Linked DNA regions of Homo sapiens. The protein of the gene in region 7 purifies or fractionates together with the protein of the main gene of each other region. This does not show direct contact. Each region holds a gene or a part of one and is shown on either strand. Other genes may lie near its edges. The genes, in order: PGM1, LYRM4, PEDS1, RNASET2, TIMM9, TOR1AIP1 and NIT2.

What was found.
Region 1: the proteins of NIT2 (region 7) and PGM1 fractionate together in Homo sapiens (co-fractionation; one large-scale study listed by BioGRID). This does not show direct contact.
Region 2: the proteins of NIT2 (region 7) and LYRM4 purify together in Homo sapiens (co-immunoprecipitation; one large-scale study listed by IntAct). This does not show direct contact.
Region 3: the proteins of NIT2 (region 7) and PEDS1 fractionate together in Homo sapiens (co-fractionation; one large-scale study listed by BioGRID). This does not show direct contact.
Region 4: the proteins of NIT2 (region 7) and RNASET2 fractionate together in Homo sapiens (co-fractionation; one large-scale study listed by BioGRID). This does not show direct contact.
Region 5: the proteins of NIT2 (region 7) and TIMM9 fractionate together in Homo sapiens (co-fractionation; one large-scale study listed by BioGRID). This does not show direct contact.
Region 6: the proteins of NIT2 (region 7) and TOR1AIP1 fractionate together in Homo sapiens (co-fractionation; one large-scale study listed by BioGRID). This does not show direct contact.

What each region holds. Positions count from the first base shown.
Region 1 is NC_000001.11:63,648,911-63,652,410, reverse strand, and holds part of PGM1 (phosphoglucomutase-1), read right to left. Parts: intron 743-3,500; coding exon 559-742; intron 1-558. UniProt on the Homo sapiens protein: Catalyzes the reversible isomerization of alpha-D-glucose 1-phosphate to alpha-D-glucose 6-phosphate. The mechanism proceeds via the intermediate compound alpha-D-glucose 1,6-bisphosphate.
Region 2 is NC_000006.12:5,215,951-5,219,450, forward strand, and holds part of LYRM4 (LYR motif-containing protein 4), read right to left. Parts: intron 789-3,500; coding exon 668-788; intron 1-667.
Region 3 is NC_000020.11:50,136,724-50,140,223, forward strand, and holds part of PEDS1 (plasmanylethanolamine desaturase 1), read right to left. Parts: intron 1-3,500. UniProt on the Homo sapiens protein: Plasmanylethanolamine desaturase involved in plasmalogen biogenesis in the endoplasmic reticulum membrane.
Region 4 is NC_000006.12:166,925,551-166,929,050, reverse strand, and holds part of RNASET2 (ribonuclease T2 precursor), read left to right. Parts: 3' UTR 1-3,500.
Region 5 is NC_000014.9:58,421,032-58,424,531, forward strand, and holds part of TIMM9 (mitochondrial import inner membrane translocase subunit Tim9), read right to left. Parts: intron 3,065-3,500; 5' UTR 2,977-3,064; intron 1-2,976. UniProt on the Homo sapiens protein: Mitochondrial intermembrane chaperone that participates in the import and insertion of multi-pass transmembrane proteins into the mitochondrial inner membrane.
Region 6 is NC_000001.11:179,902,785-179,906,284, reverse strand, and holds part of TOR1AIP1 (torsin-1A-interacting protein 1), read right to left. Parts: intron 2,320-3,500; coding exon 2,263-2,319; intron 1-2,262. UniProt on the Homo sapiens protein: Required for nuclear membrane integrity. Induces TOR1A and TOR1B ATPase activity and is required for their location on the nuclear membrane. Binds to A- and B-type lamins. Possible role in membrane attachment and assembly of the nuclear lamina.
Region 7 is NC_000003.12:100,351,757-100,355,256, reverse strand, and holds part of NIT2 (omega-amidase NIT2), read right to left. Parts: intron 2,854-3,500; coding exon 2,755-2,853; intron 486-2,754; coding exon 430-485; intron 81-429; coding exon 1-80. UniProt on the Homo sapiens protein: Has omega-amidase activity. The role of omega-amidase is to remove potentially toxic intermediates by converting 2-oxoglutaramate and 2-oxosuccinamate to biologically useful 2-oxoglutarate and oxaloacetate, respectively.

The DNA.
Region 1 (3,500 bases), on a different chromosome or scaffold from region 7:
TCTTGCCAGGTACTGCTGTGTTAGGTGGGGTGCCACTCATGTGCTGCGAATGACGATGGTCAACGTTTCTAAGTCTGGGAATGCCTCATCTATTTTTCTCTCCTTTAGAAATTAGAACATACGAGAGAAACGTATAAGTATAATGCCACTTACATGCTGTCACTCTGCTATAATCTGCTGACAGAAAAGAGAGGAGTTGACATCTAAGTTCCCACAGTTCTCCCTCTTTCTTAGATTCTGGGGCTCCTTTCTGCATGTACAATGGACACATCATCTTGCATATCATTCCAGAGAGTGCAAAAATCCCTCTGGAGTCCAGGTTAAGAATCCCAGAATGAGGGTACTGGACAGTGCACAGAACAAGGGCATAAACCACTGTCCCAACGAGTGCATGTGAGAGTCACGTGGGACAGCAGAAAACCAGGTAAGAACAGCTACCCTAGAAAAACACAGCAGCAAAAGAAAAATAGCCAACAGGAACTTTTTAATTTTTCCCTTGAGATGTCAGAGATGAAGCTCTGAGGTCTCTCTCTCACTTACACACCGGTCTGTTTCTACCTGATTTCTTGAAATGCTTCCATCCACTGGGTCGCTGTATTCAAAGTTATCGGCCTTCTCCACAGTGTAAACTTTGTCATTTGCTGAGAACTGCTTCCCCACAAAGGAGCGATCAAACATCAGGGCCTCCAAGTCCTTCATCATTTTGTTTGCGCCCTCAGCTTCCACCTCCTCGTAATCATACCTGGAAGAAGTCACGAAGTTGAGGCCCACGGGCTGACTGCAGATCACACCAAGGCCTATCAGTCAGCACTTTCTTCATCATTTGTTTGGCCCTCCCGCAAAACTATCTAACTTCAGAAGAAGCTGGCAAAAAAAATACAGGCCTGTCAGTCACTGGGGATGGAACAGGCCAGGGATGAAAGGAAGGGTTTGGAGGATTTCAGGGAAGGGTTATGAGCTTCTGAATAAGCAGAAAACACCCATCTTGGCATTTCTACAGAATAAAGCTCTAAGATGTTTCAAAGGCTTTTGAAAGATGCTATCTAACATTTAGTCACCACATCCTGAGGAGGTAAAATGAAAAGCAATGTTATCTCTGGAGAACTCTCTTGAAAGGAGCACGTGACTCAGGCACTTCTCCTCCAAGCTCCCTGGGCTTCTCTGGGGTGAATGCTGGGCCTGCTCCCAGCCTGAGACCTGCCTGAGGCTGCTGAGATTTTGACTAAGCAGAGTTCCAGCTCCACAGGAGCTTCCTAAAGCAGGGCCAAGTTTTCACCGACCAGATGAAGACGCCAAACACTGACTCTTTACATCTAAAATGCCTTTTTTTTTTTCATTAATTTTAGTAAGTTTCAAGATACATGTGCAGAACGTGCAGGTTTGTTATATAGGTAAATGTGCCATGGTGATTTGCCGCACCTATCAACCCATCACCTAGGAATTAAGCCCCAAATGCATTAGCTGTTTATCCTGATGCTCTCCCAATTTTTTTTTTTAAATTTTGTTTTATTTTAAGTTCTGCCTCCCTCCTTTCAGTGGCAGTGGATTTTGGTCCAAGGTCCTTTGGGTTCACCCTGACAGAAGAGGCCCAGTGCGGATGAAAAAGGGCCAAGGAAAAAAGTGCATCACAAATGAAATTCTATAAAGATGAGTTTTCCTTCAAGAATTCTTTTTGACTTCTTTCTTATGATGTTAAAGACTTGTACAGGTGGCTTTTCTTGACCTAGTGGCATACACCCTCTTGAGAGAGTTATTTTTTAGAAGCTCAAGATAGCAGAGTCTATATTTATTTGTAATCGTGAAATAGATATCATATATGCAAGATGACACCTCTGAGACATGAGAAATGCTGAGGAATTAAGGCCAGCCTATTCTGGCTCCAGGATTCTATGAATCAAGGGCCAAACAGTCCCCTTAATCTTAAAGTCAGCTCTTTCCCCTAGTTAACATGATAAACAACAAGAAATTACAACCAGGTGTTTGTGCTTTACATTTTTGACCTCTGGGTACTCCAGAGAAATGTTTTCTAAACCCTAGGCACAGAGGGGTGGAATAGAAGAGTCTGGGTTTTGCAATCAGACAGATGAGCTATGAATCCAGCCTCTATTGGCTATTAATTGTGTGACTACAGGGCCAGCTGCCCTATCTCTCAGAATCTCAGCTACCTTATCAATAACTGTTTTGAGGCTAAAGTGAGACAATGCATGCAAAAGTGCCTAGCGCTTTTGTTCAGTAAGTGGAAGGTATAATGGAGTTTTAACTAATCATAAATGCAGGTACTAAGGATTTGATTTGTAATACTTGGTTAGCAATTATATTTGATAATTAATAAAATCATGTTAAAATAGTTTTTATATGGAGGATTGTGACTAATTCAAGGGTGTGACCCTTTCTCTGAACAACCCCTCCTAACCTTATTCTACTCTGGCTATTGTTCACCTGTTAACTCATTCATTTATCGGTTCAAAACGTATTTATGCAGTCTCTACTATGAGTTGGGTGCTTAGGGCACAAAAACAGACATGGCCTTGTTTTTATGATACTCTAGGTTCTAGACAGTTCATGACTGCTGTTCTGAATGACCAGGTTTTTCTGTCTGTTATAAAGTAGGGATTTTTTTGCCTTGGTTCCCAGGGCTACTGTGTGGTGTCAGGTAGTTATTACTTATTCCTTCCACAAAACAGTAACGTGAGAGAGAAAGAGATCAATGAATCCGTCCAAAGTTAATAAAATAATTCTGATTAAGGAGCTTAATTTACTTAGTTGAATTCTTTCTTGACTATCCAGAGATCACGGACTATAAAATCTGGGATATATTTTTTAAATTCTCTAGTCTAACTCACCCATTTTATAGAACAGGCAACTGAGGTCCAGAGAAATTACACCTATTCATTTCTTATACATAAACAATTCATCTAATATCCTTTTTACCATATTTTCTCTCTATAATTGGAATACTGAGGTCCAGAAAAATTCTTGTTAGATTTTTACACTAACTGGGGGAAAGGCAAATTGGAATTAGTGAAAAGTACTACTGTCAAAAATTTTTTAATGCTTTTTAAAAATAGAAGTACGCATGATAAGGAATAATTACTAAGTATTCTAAGTATTTTGTTCACTGCTGAATTCCAAGTACCCGATGGAAATCGGGTATACAGTAAATATCTGTTGAATAAATTAAAAAAATTATTGACAAGTATATAGCCCTTGGGGACCTATTTCACAAGGCAGAAAAGTCGATGTGGACTAAGCATAACTGTTTCTATAATTTATGAAAAAAAGTTTCTAGGCTTTCAGTGCCCCAAAGTTAACAAAACATTTTCAGACTCATTATTCATTTAATCCTCTCAACAGCTGGACTGTTATTCCCATTTCTACAGATGACAAAACTGAGTACAGAGAAAAGCTAAATGGCTCCCCAATCTAGTAAGGGGAAGAAATAAAATTCTAATCCATTTCTCTGAATCCAAATCCAATGTTATGATCATGTCCACCCAATG
Region 2 (3,500 bases), on a different chromosome or scaffold from region 7:
CTGACGTTCTAATTACTCTTGCGGATGTTATCAGACCACGCAGGAGATCATGCCGCTGCACATGCTCCACCCACCTCATGAGAATGAGAAAAGGAAGCACAAGTCAAGGTGATCCTTGGCACTTCCACAAAACGAAAACTAACACACCCTCCAGGTTCCTTTATGGGGTCAGCACCCAAGCAGCTGTACTTTACACCATCTGCACCTGCAGATGCACCTCCCATGTGGCAACGTAATTCAGGTTCACCACCCACAATGGTGTCTTCAAGAAAAGGGCCACGTTCTGTTTATCCTGAATTATGATTAAAAATACTAGGAAAGGGAGAATATATTTATACTCTGAAATATATCCAAGTACACATGTGCGATACATCTTACAAAAACTTAGCTTTCAAAAAAATTAATGCAGAAGTTTCTCATACTTAAAAGTATCAGCTTTCCAGAAGGATACACTCCCTGGAAATTCCGGAAAGCTGGTATTTTAAGTTCAACTTGAATCTGAAAATATGAGAGTTCACCTTTACATGTCTGTATTAGTACAAGGAACAGAGTTTCATGATCCTGCTCTGTAAATCACCAACACCAAAAGCACGGCTGTCTAATCAAGGGGAATATGTCGAAGTTTAAAGCTCTTAATGAAAAACAGTACATCATTGAACCATCTTACCTGTCGACGAATTACTCCAAGGTCTCTCTTGGCTTTATTCACTAGGGTTTGAATTTCTACAGGATCCTTTACATTTTTATTTTCTCTGAAGGCATCTCTTATCCTCCTGACAGCATATGTTCTAAATGAATTCAGAGGAAAAAAAAGAAAAGGTGTCAGCGTGTCTGAGGCTATGCTTTCAAATGAATTTTAAAGTTTTTCCTTTAGAATTAACTGTTTAATCTTCCCCTACGGATAATCCACTTTGATCTTTGCTCGTGGCGCAGGCTGATCCACTACCATTCTGGGATGACTAAGCAAACAGATTTAGGAAAATAAATCTACTCAACAAGTCACATACAAATGGCAAACTGCTACTGAAGTGTTCCTTAGATTATTGGTTCTTTAGCCTTATTCACATCTGGCTTCATTCCATTTACATGGATAATTGAACCTTTAGTGTACAGAGACAAATCAAGAACTCAGAGGTTAGCGGCAGTGAACCATGATGGTGCTACTGCACTTCAGCCTGGGCGACAATGCGAGACCCTGTCTTAAAAGAAAGGAAGAAAAAATTCAGAGGTTACATGACGATCGTATTTGCATGTACCCAGATAGTGACCTATGCTTTCCAGTCCTTGTCCCATATTCTGGCTCTCACTTCCCTTTCTGTTGTCCACATTAGGATCCCACCACAGTTGAACCTGTGGAATTAGGCCAACACGCTTTCTTTACCTCCATCTTGAAAGTGCACACGCCTACCACCCACCCCCAACCAGACAGCTCACTTGCAGTACAGGACAGCAGTTCCAGAGCAAGGCTTGCCCATCGGACAGGCTTGGGTTTGTAGCCTTGCTCCAGCTTCTACTGTTTGTGTGAACTTGGGCAAGCTTCTTAACACAAGGCCGTGTCTCCTCATCTGTCAAAAAGGCATAATACTGCTAAAGGCTGCTGGGAGGACTAGGCTTTATAATGTGTGTCTGGAATTTGGCCCAAAGCCTGTTACATAGAAAGACTCAATAAATGAAAGCTATTCTTCTTAACACTTGTTATGCCTTAATGCAATTACTGTTCCCTCTCCTCATGCCATAACCTTGCCTTCATCCTGCATCCTTACAGTCACACCATAGTGTGTGTACAGAAGGTAGAGTGGTGTGGATAATTAGCCACAACAGACAGCTCAGCAGTCCTTAGACACAGCCTCATACTCAGATGGCTATGGCCTATCTCTAGCTCTACCCCAACTACTCCAGATTGAAAGGCATAAGACTAAGGAGAAGCAGACTGAGCCAGGCATGTGAGACACCATTTTCTCTATGTTTTTTTTTTCTTTTTTAGAGATGGGGTGTCCCTCTGTTGCCCAGGCAGTGTCATGATCATAGCTCACTGCAATTGCAAACTCCTGGGCTCAAGTGATCCTCCTGCCTCAGCCTCCAAAGTGGCCAGGATTATAAGCACCCACCACCACGCCTGGCTAATTAAAAAAAATTTTGGGGGATGGGGACTTGCTGCGTTGCCCAGGCTGGTCTTAAACTCCTGGGCTCAAGCTATCCTCCTGCCTTAGCATCTCAAGGAGCTAGGATTACAAGCACACACCACAGTGCCTGGCTCTCTCGTCTTCTTAATGATCACAGACTGCTCTGCTTTTAACTTGGAGCACCGGTTAAAGAATCCATGTGATGCCAGTAGTAATATTTAGCAACAGAAGAATGGAAATACAGGCAAAGAAATGAGAGGAGGGGATATAAATTTCCTTGGGAGCAGCGCGGAGGGGGTGTTGGGAGCTCATATAACTTATTGGGAAACTTTATCTTAAAAAGGACAAATTGTTTCAGATAAAGTTTTTTAAAGTAAAAAGGCATTTTACATTAAAAAATTCAAATGTCAGGTCTATTTGCATTTAAAAGCAAGAGTAAAACTAAATCTTATGATACTAGGAATCATAAAGGAGAAGGGAAGAGTTTAGGAACCGGTACTTAGAATGTAAGACACTGCTGAGACTTTGATCTTAACCCTCTGTGAACCAGCTGGAGTATTTCAGAGGAGCTGCTGAGCGCTCAGTATCAATCCTAAAGGGCTACAGCGATTGGGCATGGAATCCATGTACTAGCAGCTGCTAAATAACTGGGGCTCATTCACTTCTAAAGGGATATGGGAGGATTTTACAAATGGAATACATCAGATACAGACTCTCCTCAGGTGCAGCTGCTAATCTAACAAGATTTTAGATAGCAGCTAGGTAAATTAACAGCAATTTCTGGCACTTTCTTGCATAGCCTAATGGCTATTTATAAAACACAGCATCACTGTTCTTCTTGACAACCACATACTCCTCCAAAGCAGTTTCTTTTTTGGCAATGATGGCAGCAAAGAGGGGACAAAATAATTTAATTCTAATATTTGTTCCACAGGCAAAATTGGTTTATAACATGAATTTACCTCCAGGAATCATCTATTGTTTAAATTTTTCATTTCGTATGCTGCATGGGCTTCTTGGAAAAACAAAATGGGCAACAGTAGCTATTGCTAAACTCATTTTTCTAAAAGCTAGTAACTAGCTTAGAATAGCTAGGAAAAAAGGAGTACTGTTTGGAATGTAAAGACCTAAGGTCTTCCAAAGTTTAAGGAAATGAGAAAATAGCTTAAAACACTCAACAATTTATATCAACTGAGCTCAAGGCCCAGGGTCAGGATATTCTGCTATGTATACTTGTTTGTCTCCCCAGCTCTCCAAAGTCCTTACCTAAAGAAAAGCAGCTCTAGATCTTGGAATTAAATGTGTCTAAAGCAATCAAGAGTCATGATTCAAATTTTCGATGCACTTTCGAGATGAATGCTGTAATGGTTCCCTCCT
Region 3 (3,500 bases), on a different chromosome or scaffold from region 7:
AAAAAAAAAAAAAAAAAAAAGAGGGGAGGAAGGCTGGGCGCATTGGCTCACGCCTATAATCCCAGCACTTTGGGAGGCCACGGTGGGAGGATTGCTTGAGTCCTGGAGTTCAGTACCAGCCTGGGCAACACAGCGAAACCCTGTCTGTATATAAAATAACAAAATTCGCCAGGTGTGGTGGCATGTGCCTGTGGTCCTACTGGAGGCTGAAGTGGGAGGACTGCTTGAGCCTGGGAGGTTGAGGCTCCAGTGAGTCGTGATCGAGTCACTGCACTCCAGCCTGGGTGACAGAGGAAGACTTCATCTCAAAAAAAAAGGCGGGGTGGGGGGAGCAGAGTAACTTTTGTTTGTTGTTTTTTTGAGACAGACTCTCCCACTGTGGCCCAGACTGGAGTGTGGCGGTGCCATTCACAGCTCACTACAGCCTTGAGCTCCCATGCTCAAGCGACCCTCCCACCTCAGACTCGTGAGGAGCTGGGACTACAGCTGTAGAGACAAGGGTCTCACCATGTTGTCCAGGCTGACCAGTGAACTCCTGAGCTCAAGCGACCCACTCACAAATCCTAAAGTGCCTCCCAAAGTGCTGGGATGACAGGCGTGAGCCACCGCACCCAGCCGAGGGTAACTTAACTGTGGAGAACTCTGACATCTGCTACCTTAGTCATGGGATCAGAGTCATCACAGTGATAAGTCATGTTGACAGTCTGTACTTTTGCTATGATGTGATGAAAATGGCACTTCACCTCTGAACTCTTCCTCCTCATAACCCGTAACCCCAGTCTAATCATGAGAAAAACATCAGATAGATACCAACAGAGGGGCAGCCTACAACACACCTGACTAGCACTCCTCAAAACCGTCAAGGTCAGCCAGGCGCGGTGGCTCACTCCTATAATCCCAGCACTTTAGAAGGCCGAGGAGGGTGGATCACAAGGTCCGGAGATTGAGACCATCCTGGCCAACATGGTGAAATTCCATCTCTACTAAAAACGCAAAAATTAGCCGGGCGTGCTGGCGCGCGCTTGTAGTCCCAGCTACTCGGGAGGCTGAGGCAGAAGAATCGCTTGAACCTGGGAGGCGGAGGTTGCAGTGGGCCGAGATTGCGCCACTGCACTCCAGCCTGGCAAGAGTGAGACTCCGTCTCAAAAAACAAACAAACAAAAAAAACTGGACAAGAGGAGCCTAAAGGGACATGACAACTAAAGGCCATGTGATACCCTGGATGGGATCCAGGAACAGAAGAAGGACATTAGGGAAGAACTAAGGCAATCTGAATAAGCCATGGACTCCAGCTCATGATAATGTATCAACACTGGCACACACTGTAACAAATGTGCCCCGCTAATGTAAGATTTAGGATGTGAATAATGGAGGAAACTGCGTGCCCCAGGCATATGGGGACTCTCTGTACTATCTGCCCCATCCTTCTGTAAGTTGAAAACTTGTTCTAAAAAATAAAGTCTGTTTTTCAAAAAGTGGACAATCTCACTTCATGTCCACAGTAACAGGCCCCACCCCATCCTGACCTTCCAGAGGAGGGTAAGAACTCCCCAAGGTCACACGGTGGCAGGGGCAAGGCAGGGCTGCTGGTGAGTAGCCAGAGACTCGCTAGAGTCATTCAGGATGATGCAACCTTAGGGTTAGGGTTAGGGAGACTTCGCACCCAGGTATGGAGAATGGGGACATTTACCTCCCTTAACTATGAGAAGTTAATAAAATGGGCTGCTGGGTAAAGGGCCCGGTGGGTCCCACGACACAGCAAGCATCCCCCCAACGCAGCTCCTGTGAGCTCTCTGCTGAGCCTCAGTCTTGCCATCTGTCCAATGGTCAAGGCCTGGCGCCTGCACGCTGCCCAGCAGGGAGGGATGTCTGCTTTGGACAGAAGTCAGGAATCATCTTAGGAGACCAGGAGCCCTCCCCCTGGCTCCGTGATCTTGCGGCCTCTGCCGGTGGCAGTGACTCCAGGCTGCTGTCTGAGGCTGCTTTAATGGGGGCAGGGGTGGCAGACAGGCACACAGAAGCCTCTTTGTCCCAGCTTTGGGGTGGTGGCAGCTGGCAGCCGGCTCCCCCTGGGGGCAGCTTCGGCTTGGTTACCACCCTTCCCCGCAGAACACTGGGACAAGGAGAGGGATGGGAGACGGCTCACCCCAGGCTACCCTGACTCACGGGGGAACTTGAGGTAGTCGCTGGGCCCGTGCGGGCTTCCATTTCCCCAGAGGTCACCCAGCTGGGACTTCCTCACCCCTCCCTGCCCACCTCAAAGGCCTGGCGTGGAGATGGAAGGCGTGGCTGAGGAGCCAAGTGAATGCACTGAGGGCAAATCCATGGGTTTCGGTCCTGGGTCCCAGTCCTGTCTCTACCGCCTTCCAGCTCAGTCAGATCCAGACTCCACTTCCAGCCACAGGACGGGCCACGACCCGAGCCTGGGACTTCTCTGACCTCATCCCTGACCTCTGGACTCACTGTGCCCTCTGCCCGGAAGGCTTCTCCCAAGGTCCACGAAGGACTCTGCTCCTTTAAGGGCCAACTCACAACCCAAACACTTCCTCCCCCTTCTCCACGTGGAACAAAAGCTCAGGGCTCCTACGGCCTTCACTTGTTCACCCACTCACTCACGACAACGATGTGCGTGTCACAGTGGCTGATGACCTCCACGTGGCTAAATCCAAAGGTCCCTTTACTGGCCACCTTGCTGGTCCACTCGGTGGCTGTTCCCAGTCGACCCCCAAGACTCCTGGAAACACATTCTCCTCTTGGCCCCTGCAAGCCCTCCCTGGTTCTCCCCCGACCTCCCTGGTTCTCCCCCCATCTCCCTGGCAGCGCCATCCCAGCCTCCCTTGCTGGCTCTTCCTCCTCCCCAGCCTGGAAACACGGGAGACTCAGCCCCTGGGGGTGCTCAGCCAGCCTAGGAGATAAGGAGCTTCATCTTGACACAGATGACCCCCGGATTTCTTTCTTTTTTTTTTTTTTTTTCCAGAGGAAGTCTCACTCTGTCGCCCAGGCTAGAGTGCAATGGGGCGATCTTGGCTCACTGCAACCTCTGCCTCCCGTGTTCAATCAATTTCTCCTGTCTCAGCCTCCCCAGTAGCTGGGATTATAGGCGCCTACCACCATGCCCAGCTGATTTTTGTATTTTTAGTGGAGACAGGGTTTCACCGTCCCAAAGTGCTGGGATTACAGGTGTGAACCACCATGCCCGGCCGGACCCCCAGATTGCTATTTCCAGCTGCCTCTCCCTGCCTCCAGACCTAGATTTCCAGTTTCCTGCTCAACACCTCTCCTTAGCTCAACAGCGGCCATCTCAAGCATCTCCCTCAGGCCTGCTCTGCCGATGACCTCTCTCCATCTCTGTGAATGACAGCTTCATCCCTTCCATCTCTCAAGAGAGAAACCTTGGAGTCAAGCTAATTCTCTCTCACCTCCACAGCCAACCTGGAAGCACATTCTGGCAGCTCACCTTTCACAGCTCCTCCAGAATTTGACAACGCATCACCACCTCC
Region 4 (3,500 bases), on a different chromosome or scaffold from region 7:
GTGTGTCCTAGAACGGTGACTTTGCCCCTCCTGCCCTAGGAGATTTGGGTGTATTCACAGAGCAGCCATCTCCTGTCTCCGTCAGAGCAGTCTCTTCCAGGTTACTGGAAGGTCAGTTTCTGTCAGGCCTCACTTCCTTCTTATCAGAGGGTAGCCAGGTCCCTGCACTGGTATCTATTTAGAAATGTACATGGAGCCCCCAGCGAAATGTGCCTACATTGTGTGTTCCAGAACCGGAGGTACCCTTACCTTCTAGATATGTGATGACATGGCTCTCACGTCAGGCAGACTGCTGCACCCACGCTCTCGGCCTGCCGTGCAGGGATTTCACTCGTGGAGTGAGGCATCTGGGGGCTGTGCAGTGAGGAGCTTTCCATGTGTTGTTAAGACAACCTGTTAGCATTGTCTTCTCCCGCGTCTCCTGGCCTCTTCTCTCTTTAAATCCTTTTCTCTGTTTGTCTTAATCACATTAACGTCCTATTTATGTTTTATTCAATATACATTTAAAATAGAACTTACTATGTGCCAGGCATTGTGTTCAACACGTGAAATATTTAATCCTTAGAATAACCATATTGTCAGCATAATTTACAAAAAAAAAAAAAACAGCTGTATCAATGCCTGTGAATATTCGGCTTTACTCGCCCATTTAAAGAAGAGATTTTCAAATTGGCTCAAACCAAAACCTCACTTCATGGTGTCTACAAGACAGTCTGAAATGCAGAATGTTCAGAGAGAGACAAAGGTTTACCAGGCAGATGGGACGGTGAGAAAGTAGGTGTCGCAGTCCTGATCCTAGACTCAGTGGCCTCTGCGTCCCCCGCAGGCATTAAAGGAGACACAGGACGGCCTCTGGCCCTCTGGAAACAAGCTCTGCAGTAAGAGCCTGAGACAGGCAGCACCCAGCCAGGCCTGACAGCTTCTGCAGACAGACAGAGTGAGATGATGGGGGATTTGATGGAAGCAGTCCCTGTATTTTGTCTCTTCTGTAATGGAGGAGCTGAGCCCTCTTCTGCAAGCTGTGGGGAAGGCTAGCGGAGCCCAAGGGTCCAGGGTCCCCACCTTGTCATTGTCCCTCGGCCCTTCTCTGAGCTCATTTCTGTCTCCAGTGTTTTTCTGTTGGCTTGGCAGGGCAGGATTTGTTTCTGTCGGGAACTGATGATTTGTGTTTTGATGCCTGTGAGAGGGACAAGATCTGATTTGTTTTGCACCTGGAAGGGCGTGATTTCCTGCATTTGCTCTGCGTCCTCAGGGAGTGGGTGTACTTTAGAGTTGGACTCTTAAGCCTCAGAGTCCTTTAAATGATGTCAATTCTTTTTTTTTTTTTTTTTTTTTTTGAGTCATTTTGCGAACACAGGGATCAAGGCTTGGGTTTTATCTTCATTATTCCCAGAGGAGCTGGTGAATTTGAACAGACTTCCTATTCAAATTGCATTTATTTTATAGCCTTGGGGGGTCAAGGAAAGCAGCTCTTCAGAGGCTGTCTGCAGTCGGCTGGCCTTTGCGGTTTTTAAAGAAGCCATTCTTTTTTTTAAGTAGCGTGTATTTATTATATGAGTGTGAGCATTTGAGAGCGGATGGGGACGCCAACAAGGTAGCATCCTGGTGGGAGGCATGGGCTGCGGAGTGCTGGTTTCCTGCCATTGTCACGTCAGCTAAATGGAAGAAGGCACTGGTGAGGGGCTGGATGGTTCAAAACATGAGCACAAGCAAATGCTTGGCTCTCTTAATATTCCTATTTTGGCCTAGAGCTCAGGAGCAGGTAGAACATGAGCGTTTGATAACCTGCCTCAGATCATGTAAGTATAAGGCACTTATGAGCCGCAGGAGACAGAAGGGGAAGACTCTGCGTTTAAGGTTCAGTGATGGAGATCAGATCCAAGCACATGTTTTTACATCATTAAACAAGTAGGTCGTGCATTTTCCAGATTCAACTCAGGAAGATGCAACTCTGACCACACGGTTCTCGCTGTAACTGGGCGGAGGTGACTGAGAAATGCCTCCCATGTGAGCGGGGTCTCAGGCTCGTATGTGTGGAAGGAGGAGCAGGCCAGGCTCTGGGATCAGAGCTGGGGGTACAAGTGTCTCCCAGGGGGACAAAGGAGCAGGCGCATCTCAGGATGGAGAGCAGCCAGGAGGGGCAGCTGGCCCGGGTCTCAGCCAGAGCAGGCGTCTGCCTGGAGCATCTCTGCGGCACCATGGAAAAGAGGACCCGTGGACTAGGCCACAGGGATGAGTGGAACTTATGGTGGAAAAAGACACCATAGGTAAAAGCGAGACAAGAAAACCAGGTTCCCATGAAACTCCTTCAGACCAGCCCCTTCTCAGCAGGGCTATTGCTGTACCCAAGAGCATTTCTCTTGGCCTGGGAGGGGACAATGCTTTGTCACCTGGAAAGCAATCCCTCTCTCCAAGCTAGTAGTGGGAGATCATTATGCGCTTGAATAACTAACAGTAGCAATTGTATCATATTCAGAACTAGATATCTTTTCTTTTCTTTTCTTTTTTTTTTTTTTTGAGACTGAGTCTCACTCTGTCGCCCAGGCTGGAGTGCAGTGGTGCGATCTCGGCTCACTGCAACCTCTGTCTCCTGGGTTCAAGCAATTCTTCTGCCTCAGCCTCCCGAGTAGCTGGGACTAGGCACGCCACCATGCCCGGCTATTTTTTGTATTTTTAGTAGAGTTGGGGTTTCACTGTGTTGGCCAGGCTGGTCTGGAACTCCTGACCTCAGGTGATCTGCCTGCCTCAGCCTCCCAGAGTGCTAGGATTATAGGTGTGAGCCACCGCGCCTGGCCCAGGTATCTTATCTTTCCACCGAAACTTTTGCCTCCATCTCGGTGAATGACATCACCATCCGCTTATTCCAGGTAGAAACCTCAAAGTGAACTGGAAACTTTTTAAAAAAATTTTGCCTAAATTGTGAAAGTATTCTGAATTATATTCAGCTTATCCTTCTCATTACTGACTTAGTTCAAGCCTCAGTCTCCCATCTGGGCCATGCATTGACTGCCACGCCACCTGACTGTCAGTGCTGGACGCTGGCACCGTGTTTGTGCCACTCTCCGTAACCAACCATGGCTCTCTGCTCCCAGATCACACCTCCCCAGTATGGCGGCTCAGGGACATTCCCTCAATCCCTCCTGCCCTGTTGGCAGTGCCTCCACCCACTCCCCACAGCCCATGAGGGCTCTGCTTAGCACTTCCTTGTGCCTGGATTCTCCGCGCAGTTTGGGTGGCCTGGAGTGCTCTTCTGCTCACCTAGTTTAGCAAGTTCCATGGGATATCAACACCCAGTTCCATGGTTGGCCGTTAAGAGTTCTTTTGCAGTCCTGGGTGGCTCTGCGCCTCCACGCCCAGGGACCAGGGCCTCTTCTCTTCCAGCTCTTGTTGTGTTACATAGAAGATGCCAGCTGGATGGCACAGGGGAGGGCCGTACAGTGTAGATGCGGACAATGTGGCATAGGTGAGGACTGGACAGCAGAGACAGTGGCTGCATGATG
Region 5 (3,500 bases), on a different chromosome or scaffold from region 7:
GAAAATTTGTGTTCACAGGAAATCCTATATGTGAATGTTTGTAGAAACTCTATTCTTAATAATCAAAAACTGAAAACCCAAATGTTCTTCAGTGGGTGAATGGTTAAACAAATTGGTACATCTATACCTGTAATACTATTCAGCAATAAAAAGGATGAGGTATTGATACTTGCAAAAGCCTGGAAAATTCTGCTGAGGAAAAAAGCCAATCCTAAAAAGTTAAATACTGTATAATTCCACTTATACAACATTCTTGAAATAACAGAATTGCAGAAATGAAGAACATATGGTTGCCAAGGGTTAAGGAATGGATGAGGGAAGGAGTAGGAAGAAAGTAGGTGTTGCTATAAGAAGGCAACACAAGACCTTTGTAATAGAAATATTCTGTATCTTGATTGTATCAATATTAGTATCCTGGATGTGAGTGACATTGTACTCCAGTTTTGTAAGATGTTACCATTGTGGAAAACTGGGTAAAGGACACAGGGGACCTTTGTGTTAATTGTTGGAAGTGTATTTCAATCCACACTAACCTCAAAATAAAAAGTTTAATAATAAAGAAAAAAAATGTTATTGTATAACTTTCTGGTACCTGCCAAAGAACAACATGCAGCGTGGTAGATACTGTTAGCAAGCATTCCAAGCTAGAGTTCTTCTGGATTCCCACTCAGAAAACAGTCTGAAAAGATCTAAGAACTGGTAAAACAACTTCTAAAGAAGTATTAAATGAAATCACTGTTTTGTGAGAACTTGAAAAAAAATACAAGGGTAATAAAATATGCATTAAGGAACTTTGTTTACCAATAGGCTCCTAGCTGAAAGTTCAAAAGGTCATCTACTAGACCTGAGCCTTTTGAATTGTCGAATAAGGACAGTACACTCACTGCACCTCAGGAGGACACCCAGCAAACTGGACTTTCTACAGTTCACATCAAAAAATAACACAGAGCTGATTTCCTTCTTATAATGCCAAAATCTGTTCTTTTTTTTTTTTTTTTTAATTCCATCCTTGTATTTCTTTGGGTTAAAATTCTTATTTATTGACTTATCAACCCGAGGTCAGAGAGACAGAAAGTATGAAATCTTTTTTTTTTTTTTTTGAGACGGAGTTTTCGCTCTTGTTGCCCAGGCTGGAGTGCAATGGCACAATCTCAGCTTACTGCAATCTCCGCCTCCCAGGTTCAAGCGATTCTCCTGCCTAAGCCTCCCAAGCAGTTGGGATTACAGGCATGCACCACCACGCCCAGCTAATTTTCTATTTTTAGTAGAGACGGGGGTTTCTCCACATTGGTGAGGCTGGTCTTAAACTCCCGACCTCAGGTGATCCTCCTGCCTCGGCCTCCCAAAGTGCTGGGATTACAGGCATGAGCCACTGTGCCCAGTCGAAAGTATGAAATCTTTAAATGTTCTCTAAGTTTCATACTGGTACCCTGTGCTGCCTCTACACACATCTTGTCCTTATTATATATCTCATGGTGATAAATGATGGTTGTTACTAAAAAATCTGAAAAGACATATATGAGGAATGCCCCAAGTGCTGTTGGTATGAATCTTCTTTATTCATTAATGTATTAATATACATTACTTAAACAGTGTATGTTTCCTCTTTTCAGTGAAATAAAGTCTGTCATACTATAAAAGTAATATATTTATTGAGAATTTGAAAAACAAAAGATAGTTCTACCATTCACAGACCACTATGTTAACACTATGATTTATTTTCTTTAGAATCACTCAATTGTGTATTTTATTTATTTATTTACTTATTTTTGAGATTTATTTATTTATTTATTTTTGAGACAGAGTCTCACTCTGAGACCCAGGCTGGAGTACAGTGGTGCAATTTCAGCTTACTACATCTTCCGCCTCCTGGGTTCAAGTGATTTTGTGCCTCAGCCTCCTGAGTAGCTGGGATTACAGGCATGCACTACCACACCTGGCTAATTTTTGTTTAGTATAGATGGGGTTTCACCATGTTGGCCAGGTTGGTCTTGAACTCCCGACCTCAGGTAATCCACCCACCTCAGCCTCCCAAAGTGCTGGGATTACAGGCGTGAGCCACTGCACCCAGACCAATTTGGTATTTTTTTTTTCCAGACCTAACAGTTGAACTCAAGAGCTAACAATCAGAAGTTTTCTTAAGTCTGCTTAAATCTCTAAAGCTATCCTCGGTAGTCACCAGTATCTATCAAGATTACGGTATAGGCCAGGCACAGTGGCTCACACCTGTAATCCCAGCACATTGGGAGGCCAAGGCGGGTGGATCATTTGAGGTCAGGAGTTTGAGACCAGCCTGGCCAACATGGTGAAACCCCGTCTCTACTAAAAATACAAAAATTAGCCGGGCATGGTGGCACATGCCTATAATCGCAGCTACTCGGGAGGCTGAGGCAGAACTGCTTGAACCTGGGAGGCAGAGGCTGCAGTGAGCTGAGATTGTGCCACTGCATTCCAGCCTGGGTGACAGAGCGAGACTTTGTCTCAAAAAAAAAAAAAAAAAAAAAAAAAGATTATGGTATACATAATTGTAGGCAACTGGTTCAGAGAAAATACTGGAGATGACTGAGTAAATCAATGATTTTCAGAGTTACTTGCTAATTTGAGGTCTTCTAAATTTTTCACTATTCACTTCGCAGTTATTTAATAGTAAGCTTAGACTAACAAATTCCACCAGCCACATAAACCACCTGATGGTGAGAACAGGTAGCAGTAATGTGGTTGTTCTTTTATTTGATCCTAGTTTCCATATATTACAGCAAATTTATGTTACTGTGGCAAAGACCCATCAGGGGTTACCTTCTGATTATATCCCTGAAACCTGGAGAGGGAGAGAAGAAATAAGCAAATTCAAGAATCACTGGCTTAGATCTTGGGAATGATTACAATGATGCTGTTATTCTTGTGGCAAACAAAATATATCCTAGAACCAGGGAACTTAAGAATAAAGGGAGATCTTATCAGTCATCAAGCTCTAACCTTTTCTGATGCATGAGTTTCCTTTCTGTTCTGGAAAAGTAGTTGTCCAACCTTTGCTTGAATGTCTCCAATAAGGCCTGATTCTTACCTGAAAAATGAGGTAATATGATTACTAAGTCCCCTTCAAGTTCTAATAGTCTTTTCAATGAAATGTAAACTTCTATTGGCTAATCATTTATTTTTTTAAAGTTTCTTCCTTTTTAGTAAGTGAAATTAGTTTCCTCTATTCTGAGGTTACAATTCTTTGGCATATGTGTTACTATTAAAAAAAATACTTAATGTCATGCTATCCTTATTTATCCAGGTATAAGTATACATTACACTTCCCTTATGATTTTCCTACTAATTCTGGGAGGGATGGTTCAGAAATCTTAAGAAACTTACATGAGGTCACTTATACAGATAGTAACTGGACAGCTGGAGCCTAACTAAGGTCTTTGGACTTCAAAATCCAGTATTTTCCCCATTGCACCTATAAAATGACCTATTTAAGACCTATAAAATGTCTTATAAGCTATTATGAC
Region 6 (3,500 bases), on a different chromosome or scaffold from region 7:
CATTGAACATAGAAATATTATGGTAAATAAGACAGATATTCTCTCAGCTTTGTTTTCAGCCTATACTAAAAATATACTTTTAAAAAAGTGGATACATACGTTTTAATATTTTCATCAAATTCTAAGACATACTTTTTAAAAAATGCCCTTTGATCTACAGATATATCTTTTAATTAATGGTATGGCATAGTTTAACTGGATGGTTTTTCTTTCTCATTGATACATAAAATCAATAGTATCTTAAAGTCAATGAAATATATCTTGATCAACTTTTCATTAGGATACAATGAACTAACTCATTTTTCATTTCTAAATAGTATTTCTTTTTTTTTGAGATGGAGTCTTGCCCTGTCACCCAGGCTGGAGTGCAGTGGTGCAATCCCAGTTCACTGCCGCCGTTGCCTGTTGGGTTCAAGCGATTCTCCTGCCTCAGCCTCCCAAGTAGCTGGGATTACAGGCACCTATCACCATACGTGGTTAATTTTTGTATTTTTAGCAGAGACGGGGTTTCACCATGTTGGCCAGGCTGGTCTCAAACTCCTGGCCTCAAGTGATCCACCTGCCTTGGCCTCCCACAGTGCTGGGATTACAGGTGTGAGCCACCGTCCCCAGACTAAATAGTATCTCACTGCATGGGTATAATATCATTTATACGGGTAGATACATTTAAGAGTTTCCAAAGATCAAAGATTTGGAGTAAAATAGGGCAAATACATAAAATAATTCGAAGAGTAATTTTCCACAACTGATTTTTTCCCAGCAGCTAATTCATTTTATGTCTCATTTTATAGTCACAAACCCAGAACCTATTAAAAATTAAAATAAAAAATATAAAATTGAATTCTAGAAATACAATGATTTTAAAAAAGATTTCCAAAGGCTTTTTCTTTTTTTCTTTTTTCTTGAGACAGGGTCTCACTCTGTCGCCCAGGCTGGAGTGCAGTGACACAATCTCGGCTCACGGCAAGCTCCGCACTGCCCCCTCAGGTTCACGCCATTCTTCTGCCTCAGCCTCCCGAGTAGCTGGGACTACAGGCACGCGCCACCACGCCCAGCTAATTTTTATATTTTTAGTAGAGACGGGGTTTCACCATGTTGGCCAGGATGGTCTCGGTCTCTTGACCTAGTGATCCGCCTGCCTTGGTCTCCCAAAGTGCTGGGATTACAGGCATGAGCCACCACGCCTGGCCTTCCAAAAGTTTTTTCTTAAGAAAAGAAAGTAATGTGGAAGAAAAAAAAAGTTCTTGAAGATTTTTACATACAAAGATATTTTTGGTTGATTAATAACTAACTCAGATTTTGGGAGACTTGATTTAAAAATGTCAAAAGAAAAAAACAGTAGTAACAAAATAATAAAGGTGGCTGGGCGCAATGGTTCACACCTGCAATCCCAGCATTTTGGGAGGCTGATGTGGGAGGAATGCTTGTGCCCAAAAGTTTGAGACCAGCCTGAGCAAGATAGTGAGACTCTGTCTCTACAAAAAATTTAAAAATTAGCTGGGCATGGTAGCACGTGCCTGTAGTCTTAGCTACTCAGGAAACTGAGGCAGGAGGATCCCTTGAGCCCAGGAGTTCGAGGCTACAGTGAACCATGACGGCACCACTACACTTGCCTGGGTAACAGAGTGAAAACCTGTCTCAAAAAAAGAAAAAAGAAAATAATAAAGTTAAAAAAATGTCACCAATGATTCTTAAGCAAATCATTATTAGCATTTTGGTATATGACTTTCCAATCTTTTTTTGTTATACTTTCTCAATATTTGATCACAAAAATTTTCAGTTGTAAGACTGAAATGAATATTTATATACCCATAACCAAGCTTGCCATTAACTTTTTATTACATGTGCTTTATCACTTATTTATTCATCCTTCCAAACTTTTACAACAGAGTTGAAATTGTACTAATATAAAATTTTATGTCCTTATTAGAATAAGTGCATATAAATAGGCTCAAACTACTACATTAGTCTGTTAAAATAAAAGCAATCAACCCATTTATACTGCTAGCAAAGACATTCAACAAATCACAGGAAGTAGTAGTTTTTTGTTTGTTTTTTAAGTTCAAATTCAGGTTTGGGTATAGAGAATAATAACTCAATAAGCAAGGTCAAGTGGTAGAGAGATATCGGATAAGTTTTTTTTTAGCATTCATTATTCCTCTTGTTCAATATTTACGTTAAATTTCAAAAGAGGATCTTCAAAAATAGGAACATCATTTGACCAAGCTCACAGGAAGACACTGTAAACACAGCTTTACTTACTTTGTGATGACTGCCAAAATGATTCTATATATTGACTAGATGATCTGGTGGTTTTATCTAAAAAATAAAAAACAGTACACTATAAATAATATCCAACTTTTAGACTGTACATTTTACAAGACAACAGTGAGAAATTAATAAAAAGAGCAAAAATATTCGGGTAACTCCCAGGTGGTTAAAAACGTGGATGCATAATTTATTTAAAAAATTTCTAGGCTGGGTGCAGTGGCTCTTGCCTATAATCCCAGCACATTGGGAGGCTGAGGCAAGCGGATCACCTGAGGTCAGGAGATTGAGACCATCCTGGCCAACGTGGTGAAACCCCGTCTCCACTAAAAATACAAAAATTATCTGGGCGTGGTGGCGCGTGCCTGTAATCCAAGCTACTCGGGAGGCCTTAGGGCAGGAGAACTGCTTGAACCAGGGAGACAGAGGTGCAGCGAGCCGAGATCGCACCACTGTACTCCAGCCTGAACAAGAGAGTGAGACTCTGTCTCAAAAAAAAAAAAAAGGTTAAAAAAGTTTCTAAAGAGTCATGTCACATCTAAAATATTAGCTAATAACCACTTAAAAAATTGTTATGATACAGAACATGCCCCAAGGTAATGACATAATAAAACCTTTGAGTTGCGGAAAATTTTCAAAGTTTACAACAGTGGAGCATCTTGAAATCATTAATATCCATTTTTGCTTTAAATTTTTATTGCAAGTGGGCAATATTTTTGTATACTCTTTTTCTTTCTTTCTTCTTCTTCTTTTTTTTTAAGAGATGGAGTCTCACGTTACTGCCCAGGCTGGTCATGAACTGAAGGGATCCTCCTGCCTCAGCCTCCTCAGTATCTGGGACTATAGGTACCTATCACCATGCCTTGCTTTCAGTCTACTCTTCTTAAAAACATTTTTTCCCAAATAAAAGTAGAATTTATAACTAAATTAGTTTAAAAGTGATCAGGTTGCTGTTTTGGAAACAGACACATTGATACAAAAAGGTGAAGTGCCCATATTTTTTTTTTTTTTGAGATGGAGTCTCGCTCTGTTGCCCAGGCTGAAGTGCGATCGCGCAATCACAGGACCTGAGGTTTATGTACTTCCAAATAGTTATGCTGGTAGCAATGGCAGCAAACTATTGGCTATATAAATGGCTTAATTAACCTCTAATTTTTAGAGCTTCATGTAATATGTATGAACACTAATAACAGCACTTAGTGTTTACTATGTGCCAGGTAAGTGCTTTGCAT
Region 7 (3,500 bases):
CATCTCCACAGCATAGAGGTCTGATCGCTTCTGTCTAAAAACGGGGATTTGCTGGCGTATTTCAGCCAGCTTCTTCAGGTCTGCAAAAAACAGGAAAGTGCACTATTAATAATTTGCAACTCCTCACTAACCAAGGGGATTTCTTCCCCTGACTGTATAAACCACCAGAGTCTTAGTAAGTAACTTAGTAACATAGGTCTTATCTAGGTGCACAGATGGCCTGGCATCATTTCAAACCAAACCAAGAAAATTCAAGCTGATACACTCCCCAGGGATTGGCCAGAGAACCAGACCCTAGAATATCCCCAGAGATCAATGAGAAGGGGCATAAAGGAACCCCTCCAAATGACAGGGACTTCCCAGCCATGGAGTCTGGCCTCAGAACAATGGGGACATCAGAGACCTAAACCATGCCCAGGAAAATCTTACCTATGTCTGAATACACGATTGCTTCTTCTGTGCCAGCTTTGGCTAGAACCTCCCCCCTGAAAAAGATGCAGAAGAGAATGAGTGGATTCACTGATGTTTGGTGATATTCAAGGTCTCTGTTTTTTCCTCCCAAGCTCACAGGCCAAAGGGGAAAGTATGAGATTGAAAACAAGAAGGTAGTCGTACAGATTTATGTTCTATCATTTAAATAGCTCTGTGACCTTATGGGAAGGCATTTTAAATCTCCATTTCCTAATCTATAAAGTGGAAATAAGAGCTCTGTGAGGGCTTAGTGATAAAATTATGGATCATGTTTCATAAATTGCAAATCACTAGGAGACGGTGGTTATCTGATGATTATAAAGATCTGGCAATAGAGCTACCTACCACCAACAGGAAGCTCCATCTCATGCCCTCATGAGTGCATTTCAGTGGACCCCCCCTTTACAATGGCAGTCCAGACCCACTCTTCATACCTGCCTGGGCTGCTACCCTCCCTGAGAGTGGTGAAGCTGGGCCTAGGCAGGGCCCCAGATCTGCTGGGGTCTCTGCCCTGGTGGCTGTGATACCTGAACCCCTGTGTTAATGGGCTTCAGTTTCAGATTTGAGGGAAAGAGTTCAACCTCTGGCGACTGGGTAGAAGTGGCATGGGGGGATGGAGGGTAACCTCACACTGGCAGGAGCCCTGCACTAGGGAACAGCCACACTCCTTCATCAATCCAGGGTAAGGCTGACCTGTAAAACCATCTCCAGGAAGGGTGCGGTAGCTCACGCCTGTAACCCCAGCACTTTGGGAGGCCAAGGTGGGTGGATCGCTTGAGGTCAGGAGATCGAGACCAGCCTGGCTAACAAAGCGAAACCCCATCAGTACTAAAAATGCAAAAATTATCTGGGCGTGGTGGTGTGCACCTGTAATCTCAGCTACTCGGAGGCTGAGGCAGGAGAATGGCTCGAACCCGGGAGGCAGAGGTTGCAGCAGTGAGCTGAGATTGCACCACTGCACTCCAGCCTGGGCGACAGAGTGAAACTCCATCTCAAAAAAAAAAAAAAGAAAAAAGAAACTATCTCCAGTGTCTAGTCTCTTGGCCCAGAGCAAGGGTTCAAACCCTTACCTAGAGAAATGAACCTTCTCCAAAATAATCTGACATAACAACTGATTCTGTTTACCAGATAGCCACAGACAGACTTTTGGCACAAATGAGTTACAAATACAAGCACCACCATTTATGACACGTAACTGAATTCTTTTCTGATTCTTCCCCATTTGCCCTGGCATTCAAAGATTTCTGGACAGTGGAACCTGATGCAAGTTCAAGAAAATTTTCAAGTCAACTTAGTCCTTCAATGTCCCCAAGCCTAATGTGCAGGAGGCCAACTGGAATCTCACACTAGTCATATCTTCCAAGGCCTCCCCACCACACACATTGAGCTCTGAGCCCTACCTATAAAGGCAGAAGACAGAACCCTCAGGAACCCCACAGTAACATTTAACTCTTCTCAGTCTTGTTACTGGTATACTCATCCTGAAATGTAGACATACATACCAGTGTGTGTGTGTGCTTTCATACAGAGAACTAGTGTGGAATACATCCAAGTTCTGAAGGCAAATATCCTGGATTCAAACACTGGGTCTAGCCGCTACATCTGGAATTCCAGTCGCTTCCTCTGTAATTCTACCATCTATAAACTGGGCTTAATAAGAACAATTTCCTGAGAGTTCAAGTTGAGACCATGTTGTGAAAGTAGGATGTAAACTGTACAAATGTAGACTGTAAGGAATGCGTATGAGCGTATGACTGTAATTCTGTCTGGGCAGGCTTATGTGCTGGCTCCACTGAGTAATAAAATGCTTCACCCTTTTGTTGGGGAGAGGGTCATAGTTTCACTTATTGAACCATCCTGACTGCTCCTCTGATCATTATGCTGGAAGCAAAGTCCTCACCCTGTAACTCATTCCTACCCTGGGACTAGTCAGCCAACTTAAATTTTAACCAAAAATTTCAGAGTCTCTTACTACAACCTGCCTGTCACTGCTGCCTTGTTTCCCCATGTGATCCAAGTATGACTGACAGTGAAGGTCACCAGAAACTCAGAAGAGGGCTAAGGCCAAGTGCTTGATCATGAGAGCAGGGTGATTTGCTTCTCACATGGTTTTCAAATGGAAGCTCCTCTCACAGAGACAGGCAGAAAGCTGGCAGGATATGTGGGGAAATGGGAGTGAGAAGTGAGCGCCTGGCTGCTCAGGAACCAGAAAACCCATCTGCCAACGAGCCACCACTCAAGCTCAAGCTCCGACTGAGCCTATTCTCACTTAGCCTTACTCACCAAGGGTTCACCACGGTGCTGTGTCCCCAGGCAACATAGGAGGCTTTGTCATCCCGGGCAGGAGAGGCTGTGGCCACATACACCTGATTATCAACAGCCCTGTAGTCAATAGACAGGAAAGAGGTAAATCGTACATTATAAATCTGACATTTTTCTAACCCAAGTAGATAGATCCTTCTTTTAAAAAATAGGATAGTTCAGGCTAACTCAGATGTAGAAGGAAGCCAGAGCCATGGAACCTTCTCTTTAAAAAGTTACCTTACTCAAATGGTATTTCTAGTTCTAGATCCCTGAGGAATCACCACACTGACTTCCACAAGGGTTGAACTAGTTTACAGTCCCACCAACAGTGTAAAAGTGTTCCTATTTCTCCACATCCTTTCCAGCACCTGCTGTTTCCTGACTTTTTAATGATTGCCATTCTAACTGGTGTGAGATGGTATCTCATTGTGGTTTTGATTTGCATTTCTCTGATGGCCACTGATGGTGAGCATTTTTTTCATGTGTTTTTTGGCTGCATAAATGTCTTCTTTTGAGAAGTGTCTGTTCATGTCCTTCGCCCACTTTTTGATGGGGTTGTTTGTTTTTTTCTTGTAAATTTGTTGGAGTTCATTGTAGATTCTGGATATTAGCCCTTTGTCAGATGAGTAGGTTGCGAAAATTTTCTCCCATTTTGTAGGTTGCCTATTCACTCTGATGGTAGTTTCTTTTGCTGTGCAGAAGCTCTTTTAGTTTAATTAGATCCC